Linked DNA regions of Homo sapiens: region 1 is reported to be linked to region 2. Evidence: microRNA targets listed by miRTarBase, many of them from high-throughput screens and not tested one by one. Region 2 holds a microRNA gene; the other region holds the end of a gene's coding sequence.
Evidence for each region. Region 2 holds the annotated microRNA hsa-miR-503-5p (UAGCAGCGGGAACAGUUCUGCAG, at 2,950-2,972, opposite strand). A microRNA usually pairs through its seed, bases 2 to 8, with sites in the 3' UTR of a target mRNA and lowers its output. Matches are read on the target gene's strand: a 7mer-m8 pairs with bases 2 to 8, a 7mer-A1 pairs with bases 2 to 7 and ends in A, and an 8mer does both.

Region 1 (4,295 bases), not on the chromosome of region 2:
AGGTCAGGAATGTGTGCTGTGGCATTACTGAAACCTAAAGAGAAAAAAATCGTGTTTCAGGAAGAAATCAACTTATAAATGCTGAGGAAGAAAGGCTAGTAGTGATTATTATTTCTCATTACCTAAGCATTTGAGTCATTTCTGTTATTGTCTGAGAAGCTGGAGACACAAAAATAGGATTTGTAGGTAGCTTAGGGCCTAGTCAGAACCTCTATTTTCTTAACTCTAAAGTGGAATTAGAACTTTCATAGGTGTTTGAGGATGAACTGGTTAATACAGGTAAAGGCTCATGTTCTTCCATCTGCAGAAAGCATAGTGAGGTACATCAGGATTCTAAGATGTTTAATATGTATTTTTAAATAGGTTTGGTTAGAACTGAAATGTCTGCTATACTTTTATTATCAAATATGTTGATCCTTTCCTCCTGTTTTGATGTGAAGTCAGTTTTGTTGACTGCCTCTTCTTATCCCCAGGGGTGACCAGTCCCGGAAGAGAGCTGGGGATGAGTTGGCTTATAGTAAGTAATGATGTTCCTTCCCATCTTGATGGTTCTGTGATGTAAAGCAGCCATATTAATGCACTGTGATAACAGTGCATTGAATTTGATGATACCCATGTTGTTCTCATAAGGCACTGCTTGTAATCAAGGTCAGGATGCTTTGCATGCTGTGGCAGCTCCAGCTGGTAGCGATGGTTCTCAGGGCATTGGAAAGAGGCCACCAGGTTCTTTAGTTTCTACTGGGATGACATCGTAGCCCAGTCCCAGTTCCTTAGGTTCTCAGTCCCCTTTTACTTCCCTCCACCCCACATGGTTTTGAGGATTTTTTTTAAGCCTTTTTTGGGGAGTTGGGAGAGGAGTGAGAAATGTGTGTTGAATAAACAGATTCCTGCTGTTATCAAATGCTGTCTGCTCTTCATACTTTTTCCTATTCTGATGTTTTTTCAGATAGCTCGTCAGCATGTGCAAGTTCCAGGGGGTACAGATAGTGAATGTATTGAATATGCTTTCCTTCCTGAAAAGAGGACACACTGGAGCTGCAGAGACTGTATTCAGAGCACAGTGGGGGCTGCACACACTCAGGAGCTCTGTCACAAAGCTGTTCATGGAAGAGGATGTTGGACTTCTTACTTGGTTTGTAATTTTAAAACAAAAACTAAAAAAAAAAAAAACGTTGCTGCTAGACTTGGGGGTGATTTTGAAATGGGACAATCTTTTAATGAGTTTATCTACAGATTCTGTGAGGAAAAAGCATCTCAGAAAGTGACCATTTCTAAGTGAAATCTGACAGCCAAAATCAGCAGCTTCCTCCAAAAATATAAGAGCAGAAGAATTTTTTTTTTAAGCACTTGTTTTGTTCATTTGTGGACTTGGCATTTTGGTGTATTGGTTTCACATGTCAGGATCTCTTTTGCTTTAAAACCAAGCAGATCATTACAGTACAGTATTTTTCACCCACAACCAAAACAACCCCTTTTAAAAGAGTTGGTCTTTGTTTAGCATTAGAAAGTCTTGTTAAAGGAAAATGCTAACTCTGCTTTTGCTAGAACTTTCCCCCATCAGTTCACAACTTTCTTCTACTCTGTGCCTTGAGCTTTGTGCACTTTGCAACTGTGTGACCATGTTGTCAAACTCCTCCTGGAGAAGTGTATGGTATCTAAACTCACCCACCAAGATGGCAGGTGTGGCCCTGTAGCAGGATGCTAATTAAGTGGGAAAATAGAAACCTTTTGCACATGGGTCGGATTTTCCCCTGGTTCACCAGAGCATATTCATATTAATGTTGGGGACCAACTCTCCTAGAGCATTTCCATTCCCTGTGCCACTTAACACGATGTCTGTCACCAGCTGCTATAGTATTGGCAGTACTCTAGTTTAGGGATGGGCGGTACTTTAGCACGGAAGCTTCCCTTAGTATTATTGAGAGCTACTTCCTGCGATGCTCTAGGAAGCAGATACAGTTATTAAGTCCAAATACACAGTGGTGTGGGGTTCCTGATCACTTCATTTTAAATGAATGAGATAATTACTTAAAAAAAGTCTGTCATTTGAACATTATATTTGAGTGTGATAGGGAAGAAGTAGCACTGCTGTCCTAAGGCTCCCTTCCAGCTGTGGCAAAGCTATATTTCTGTTTCTCCACATCCACAGTGCTTTTTAGTCCATCATAAAAGTTTCTGAAGCTTATTCTAGCTGTTGTTGAAAGCCCAAGAAAAATAGATGTGGCAAGAGAAAAATACTTTTCTTCTCAATTTTGCTTGAATCTTAATTGAGCATAGGCTTCTCTACTAGGCAACATCAGACTAATAGTATTTACCTCTTCAGAGAACTTGAGGGGAAAAGAAACATCCCAGGGATGCTGTCGCATGTCTGCTCTGCAGGTTCTTCATACAGCTGCCTCTGCCAATTCAGTTTATTTTTTGGGGGGAGTGGTGTGGGTGGGAGAGTTAGAAGTGGGATATTGGGAGCAAGTAAGTCACCCAATAATTGAAGTCCTTGATTTGTAAAACTGTTATACAGAGAAGTAAAGATAAAGGTTGTCAGATTTATTTTTTAAAGTACTTAACCAGAGTTCGTGGATTTTGTGGACTTTAATTGGACTCAATTCACTCTGTGAGCATCCTGGATTGCATCGATGAACACTGAATTACTGTAAGAACATAGACAGGCTCTCACTATGACCTGGACAGTTTAAGTTGCTACACTGGTAACATTCTAGTATCAAGGAGAATTCCATTCATCATGACATTCACATTTTACTTTTCTCAATGGAATGCTTGCTTCAGGCTTACCAATCACACCTAGAACTGAAGTCTGAGTGAGTGGTATTAATAATTTTTCTGAAAGGAATAAAATTGGAATGTTTCTAAATGTGGAGAAATTCTTCAGTATCCTAATAATATACCCAAATGCTTTTTCTGGGAGAGAGCATTCTTTTACAAAAGAACTTTCCCTATAAAAGCATCACAGTATAATGTGAATTGGCATTAAAATCTTTGGATGCTTTTGCATTATTAAGTTCATGGAGAAATATATTCTTTTTACTATGTATGTATTAATAAAAAGTGGGCAAAGTAAAGTTTGCAAAATTTAGTTTCTCTAAATTTTTGCACAGTGACTGCAGCTGGCTATGGGTCAGCTCTTAATACAACAAAACCTTGACTGGAAGTCACTATAGAAAGGTTGTACATAGTCTCCCAGTCTACATGTCCTGGCTGTTAATCATCTTGGCCCCTTGAGGCACATCACAGTTTGAAGGACCTGTTTAAGTTGAAATAGACTTTGCTTATTTATTGGGATTCTAAAAAATTCTGAGTGAGTTTGCAGTATGAGAGGAAATAAGATTTCCTCCTCCTTCCTCTCATTTTATATTGACTGTTTGCCAGAAACTGTTTTCTTCTGTTTTCTTATATTTTGTTTTTGAGATGGAGTCTCACTCTCTCACCCAGGCTGGAGTGCAGTGGTGCAATCTCAGCTCACTGCAACCTCTGCCTCCTGGGTTCAAGTGATTCTCCTGCCTCGGCCTCCTGAGTAGCTGGAATTACAGGCACGTGCCACTACGCCCGGCTACTTTTTGTATTTTGTTTTTAGTAGAGACGGGGTTTCACCATGTTGGTCAGGCTGGTCTTGAACTCCTGACCTCAAGTGATCCACCCACCTCGGCCTCCCAAAGTGCTGGGATTATAGGTGTGAGCCACTGCACCTGGCCTTTTTTTTTTTTTTTTTTGTATTCTTGCCAGTACAGTATATGGTTTTTCTACCCCAATTACATACTGGGTTTTGTACCACATCACTAAAGGCCCAAATCATTGAAGATACAAAACCGTACATGCAGGCTGGTTGTCTGGTTAGTCAATGGCTGATTTGCTTCAACTGTCTAGTATGTATGTGCAGCCTGAAACTGGCTCCTTAAAAGGAAAGCCGGGTCAGTCATCTTGAAAAAATGACATGTAAAAGTAAATCGATAATTGTTTTGAGAGACGGTACATGTTTTAAAGGTTGGCCTTAAGCTTCAGTAACATTGTCATTTTGTGACCTTTTGTTGTCACACCTGTACCCTAACCTGACAGGAATTAACTACTGTTTTTTTGTGGGGCAGAAAGCAAAACCTGGTGTTGTGACTTTTATCCTAATGGTTCTTAGGCAAGGTTAGTGAGAAGAAACACAAACCCAGATGCATGCATTGTGCATTATTTTGTAGACAAGCTACTTTTTCTTCTGTCCCTTTAACAAATTTGCAGCAATTACCCTCCCTTTGGGGTCTAGAGTGAAAGCTAATTTGTGGGTAGATGAGATT
Region 2 (4,295 bases):
TGGAGTACAGCCCACTGTTTTCCTGTGTGGGGTTCCACTTTAGTTCTTGTCTGTGTGCATGCATACATTTTTACAGAGTTGTGACCACTGCCTTTTTCTGTGACCCTGGTTATTGACATCTAGTTTTCCAAGTAACATTGACACACATCTGTTCAAATCAGTTGAGGTTCCCATCATGACTGACTCATTTGGCGGGAAAACCAAATTTACATGCCAATTGGAACAAAGAAGTGTGGGTATGGGGGAACAGCGGGGGGAAAGAAATGGTGGGAGAGGATTCCTTGGACTTACAGATCATAAAACATTTCCCAATAACATTTTTAAAGGATGTATAATATTACACTGAGTGATTGATTATATATTACCCTTCTATTTGGGACACTTGGGTGGTTTTCAATGCCTAGAGTTTTAAAATGCATATAAATTACAGCCTTTGAGAGATGATTGTATTTTCTTGAAACAGGAGTCTTCTGTGTCCAGGTCCCCGCCAACAGTGTTGATGTAGTGTTCCTTTGTTGGGGGGAAAAAAAATCAGTACTGCTAACTGGAGATGCTGGATGCCTTCAAGAAAAACATTCCTGTGATTTAAATTTTTAAAAAATTATGTTCAATTCTGGTTTATCAAACAACCTGGGTATCTTGTCTCACAACTTACCGAAATGTCGAATTTTAGATTTAGAGTTAGACTAAGCTCTTCCTAGTTTAAGGGCCACGTCTGTCTAATAAACTTTATACAATGCCACGTGCACGCAGCTTCCTCACTAACAAATAACATGTGTTGGGGAAAAAATGAGAAAATAGTGGAAAGGTGCCTCCTTGGAGGTGGTAACATCGGGTCAATTAATCAGCTGAGTATAAATTGATTCACTTTATACAAGTCTCCCACACATTATGATGCACATTTAGCAACGCTGAAAAACAATTTAAAAGAATACCTTAGGGAGTTGTTAAAGAGAATTTATAGTCTGGAACGAATTGCAATCTTCTTAATTGACACAGAAATGTTTGGCTAAAATATTGCTTTATTCACATTTTTGTCCTTGGAGGAAAATCTAGGCACACTGCAACTTGGATCGTGTAAATAAAGGTACAAGGAATGTTTTAAGTCAGAAAAGGGCATCACGCAGTCAGGGGGCTGTGTGGACGAGCTCAATTTCGATGCATCTCGGGAGACCCGGGCAAAAGGCCGCTTGGATTCCGGGAGGCAACGCCCCCAAGTCAGGATCCCTTGCTCGCCGCCCCCAACCGGTCAGGATCCCTGGCTCGCGTCCCCAACCGGTTCCGTGTCTCACCTGGGTCCTGCAGGCGTCCACTGGAGGAAGCCGGATGGCGCGGGCTTGGTCTTTCAGGAAGGCTGGCTGGCACCGGGCTTCCTTCTGGCTCCAGGGGGAACCGTACAGGACGGGGAGAAAGGGGGAAGCTGGTGAGAGGCAGAAGGGGCGTCACAAGGTGGCTCTCCCACCCCCAAGTGCAAAGGCAGGCGGATGCGGGGACCTGTTCGCCGTTTGAGCCTGGAGATTGCGGGCCTGAGGGGCCCTGCGCTGGCCGGCCGGGGCGAGGCGGGAGCAGAATGGGGATTTCTAGGCCGCCGGGTCGGGCTGGTGGGCGGCGCCCCGGGAGCCTGAGGGTCCCCGCCGGCCCGGGAGGGACCCGAGCCGCCCCCGCGCACTGCCCCGGCGCAAGGGAGTCTGGGAGAGCCAGCGTCTCGGGCCGCTGAACCCGACTCCCAGCTCTAGACTTCGGAACCCCGGCCCCACCCCAAACTGGGAAACTTCTAGGGGCCCACTCCTGGCCCCGGGAAGCCCAGTTCCAGGCAGCCCATTCAGACCAGAGGAGTTTGGGTGTCTTTTTTTTTTCTTTAAGGTGACAAAAAGTGTGGGAAAGATTCCACACCTCCCTCCCCACGCCCGCCAATGGTCCTTTACCTGTCCATGTTTCAGATTAAATAATTAGCTCAAGAGATTTGCACAGAAAGCGAATTAGCCCTTTTCTAGTCAGACTGTTAAGCTCTCAGGCGGGCAACTCGGAACCCCGTTTCCTCACCGAAGGCTCAGGAGGCCAGCCCAGTGAGGGATGGAGGTGGCTTTAGAGGGCGACAGTTGTGCAGCACTCATGAGCAACAGTGCCCAGGACTTTTGAAGTCACGAAGGGCTCCTGAAATCGACAGCTCAGGTCCCGCCCCTGGGGCGACAAAGGAGTCTTGGGGGCGTGCCGCCGGGTTGGAATTGTGGTAGCAGATTTTTGGGGGAGGAGGGCGCAAAGCAGCTAGAAACGCACATCCTCATTCTGGAACTATCCCAAGGCCCCCATGCTTCTCAGCAGGCCTCGGGCTCAGATTGGGCGGGTTGGAGCCTTCCACCCCACCTTGGGTTCACCCGCCCGCAAGGCCTCGCGCCTCACCCGATCCTTCTAGAGTGCTGGAGCTCCACGGAGCCTCCCTAACCCCCCAGCAGCGGGGAAGGGAGGGCGAGGGAGTGGGGAAGAGGCCCGTTATTTTGATCTTTCCTGAATTCTTAAGTCCCTTCCATACCCAGGACATGAGCGCGTTTACCAGGAACCGCAGAGAGGTGTAAAGACTTCTTGCAGCTGCTCACCCTTCCTCTCCCCTTACTCCTTTTCCAGTCCTCCCCACCCCCCAGCATTTCGTGGGTGGGGACTGAAGATAGGTTTTCTTCGTTGTCCTGTGGGTGGTATTCTGATTGGGAAGGGATTTTTTTCAATTGTTTACATTCTACCTGAGCAGGGAAAGGGGGTGCCAAAATGAAGCATCATTCACGTCCAGTCACATATGCAGAGACGGGGCAAACGTTTGATGCAATCTTGGGTCTCGCTGCTCCCGGGGCCGACACCGCAGGCGATGGCCTAAGACTTACCTGCTGGGTAGGCCCGAACGGCAGTCCCAGACTTACCCTGGCAGCGGAAACAATACCCCAGAGCACCGATCGCTCACTGCAGAACTGTTCCCGCTGCTAGGGCACGGCTGAGCGCGGGCACCGCGTCTCTCCTCGACTCGCACCGCCTATGCGCCCCAGCCTAGCCAGGAATACTGCCCTCCCCGGACTACAGCCCTGCTGCGTGGACAAGGGCGAGGACCCGCCGGAAACAGAGACGCGAGCCCCCGCCCACCTACCTGCTCCTGAGCCGGCCTCGCGGGGAGCGGGCACCTGGTGGCAGGAACACGCGTCCGGCAGACCCCACCTTCTACCTTCCCCACGAGGGGGTATAGCAGCGCCTCACGTTTTGAACCATTTAGAACACTTCAAAACATGAATTGCTGCTGTATCCCCTCGGAGTCAATGAAGGGGGATCGATCTGGGGGTACCTGCGGGTGAATAAAGACTGGATGACTGAAGGAAGCCCCGCCCCACCCCCTGGCAAGGAATAGGGCAAAACTTATGACTAGGCCACTTCACTCCAAGTTAAGGTACTTCTTATAACTTCACCATTTGATTTCCAGGAGCTGCAGGTGGAGCCGAAAGTGTGGCTCTCAATTTTTTCCCCTGAGGATGAATCTTGGAACAACGTAGTGGGTGAAAAGCAGAGCGATGGGGGATACGAATTAGTGTGGAAGAGAATCTAATTACTTCTGAAGGTAGACGAATAAGGTTAAGTAGAGGCAATTGGACATCTGGATCATTCTTGCCAGTTTCAAAGTCTTGGTGAAACTTCTTCCTGCTGCATATTACAAGTCTCATTCATTGTCCCCATTAAAAAAAAACAAAAAACGAAACAAAAAAACAACCTTTATTGGAAATGGACTCAGATGACTGAAAGAAAATAACCAAAACCTCACCGGTAGCTTCAGCTGATTCTTACACTATCGTTGCGACATATACATCTATCTTTAAAAGCATTAGATGTCCTAACTCACTGCTAGTGTTTTTATTCTTAAACACCCCAGCTGAGTTATTTTAAAGAGCTCCAAACAATGACAGAGAACTTTCTGTAGATGAAATACCAGTTTACATATTAAACTGGTTACTCAAACTTATTTATAATTTATACCTATCAATGTCATCTATCAAAACATAAATCAAAAAGTTTAAATACTTGATGTCAAGTCGCTCCTTCCTGTTTCAAGCAGCTCCACAGAAACTTTCATGTCCTGAAATGGCCGGCACTGCGCATACTCCTTAATGATTAACTCATTAGATACCACTTTTTCCTTTTTAAAATGGACACATATTAGCAACAAGTCACATGCATGCCCTCTTTTTGTTTGAATACAATATTCAATTAAGCATTAAAAAAAAAACCCACTCTGAAATCCTCAATCACAAACCTAAAAGTTAAAA

Region 1: the mRNA of CACUL1 is a reported target of hsa-miR-503-5p. Seed matches in the 3' UTR shown: 7mer-A1 at 1,175-1,181 and 7mer-A1 at 1,846-1,852.

The regions. Positions count from the first base shown.
Region 1 is chr10:118,682,820-118,687,114 of GRCh38, reverse strand. CACUL1 (CDK2 associated cullin domain 1) reads left to right here. Exons shown (of 9, transcript NM_153810.5): 8 at 474-517; 9 at 947-4,295. The coding sequence ends at 987. Among named protein-coding and RNA genes, the nearest start is that of CACUL1, 70 kb to the left of the region's middle.
Region 2 is chrX:134,543,422-134,547,716 of GRCh38, forward strand. MIR503 (microRNA 503) reads right to left here and starts at 2,977; the gene lies at 2,907-2,977. It overlaps MIR503HG (MIR503 host gene), which reads right to left and starts at 3,209. Exons shown (of 3, transcript NR_024607.1): 1 at 3,131-3,209; 2 at 1,293-1,376; 3 at 1-578. It overlaps MIR424 (microRNA 424), which reads right to left and starts at 3,290; the gene lies at 3,193-3,290.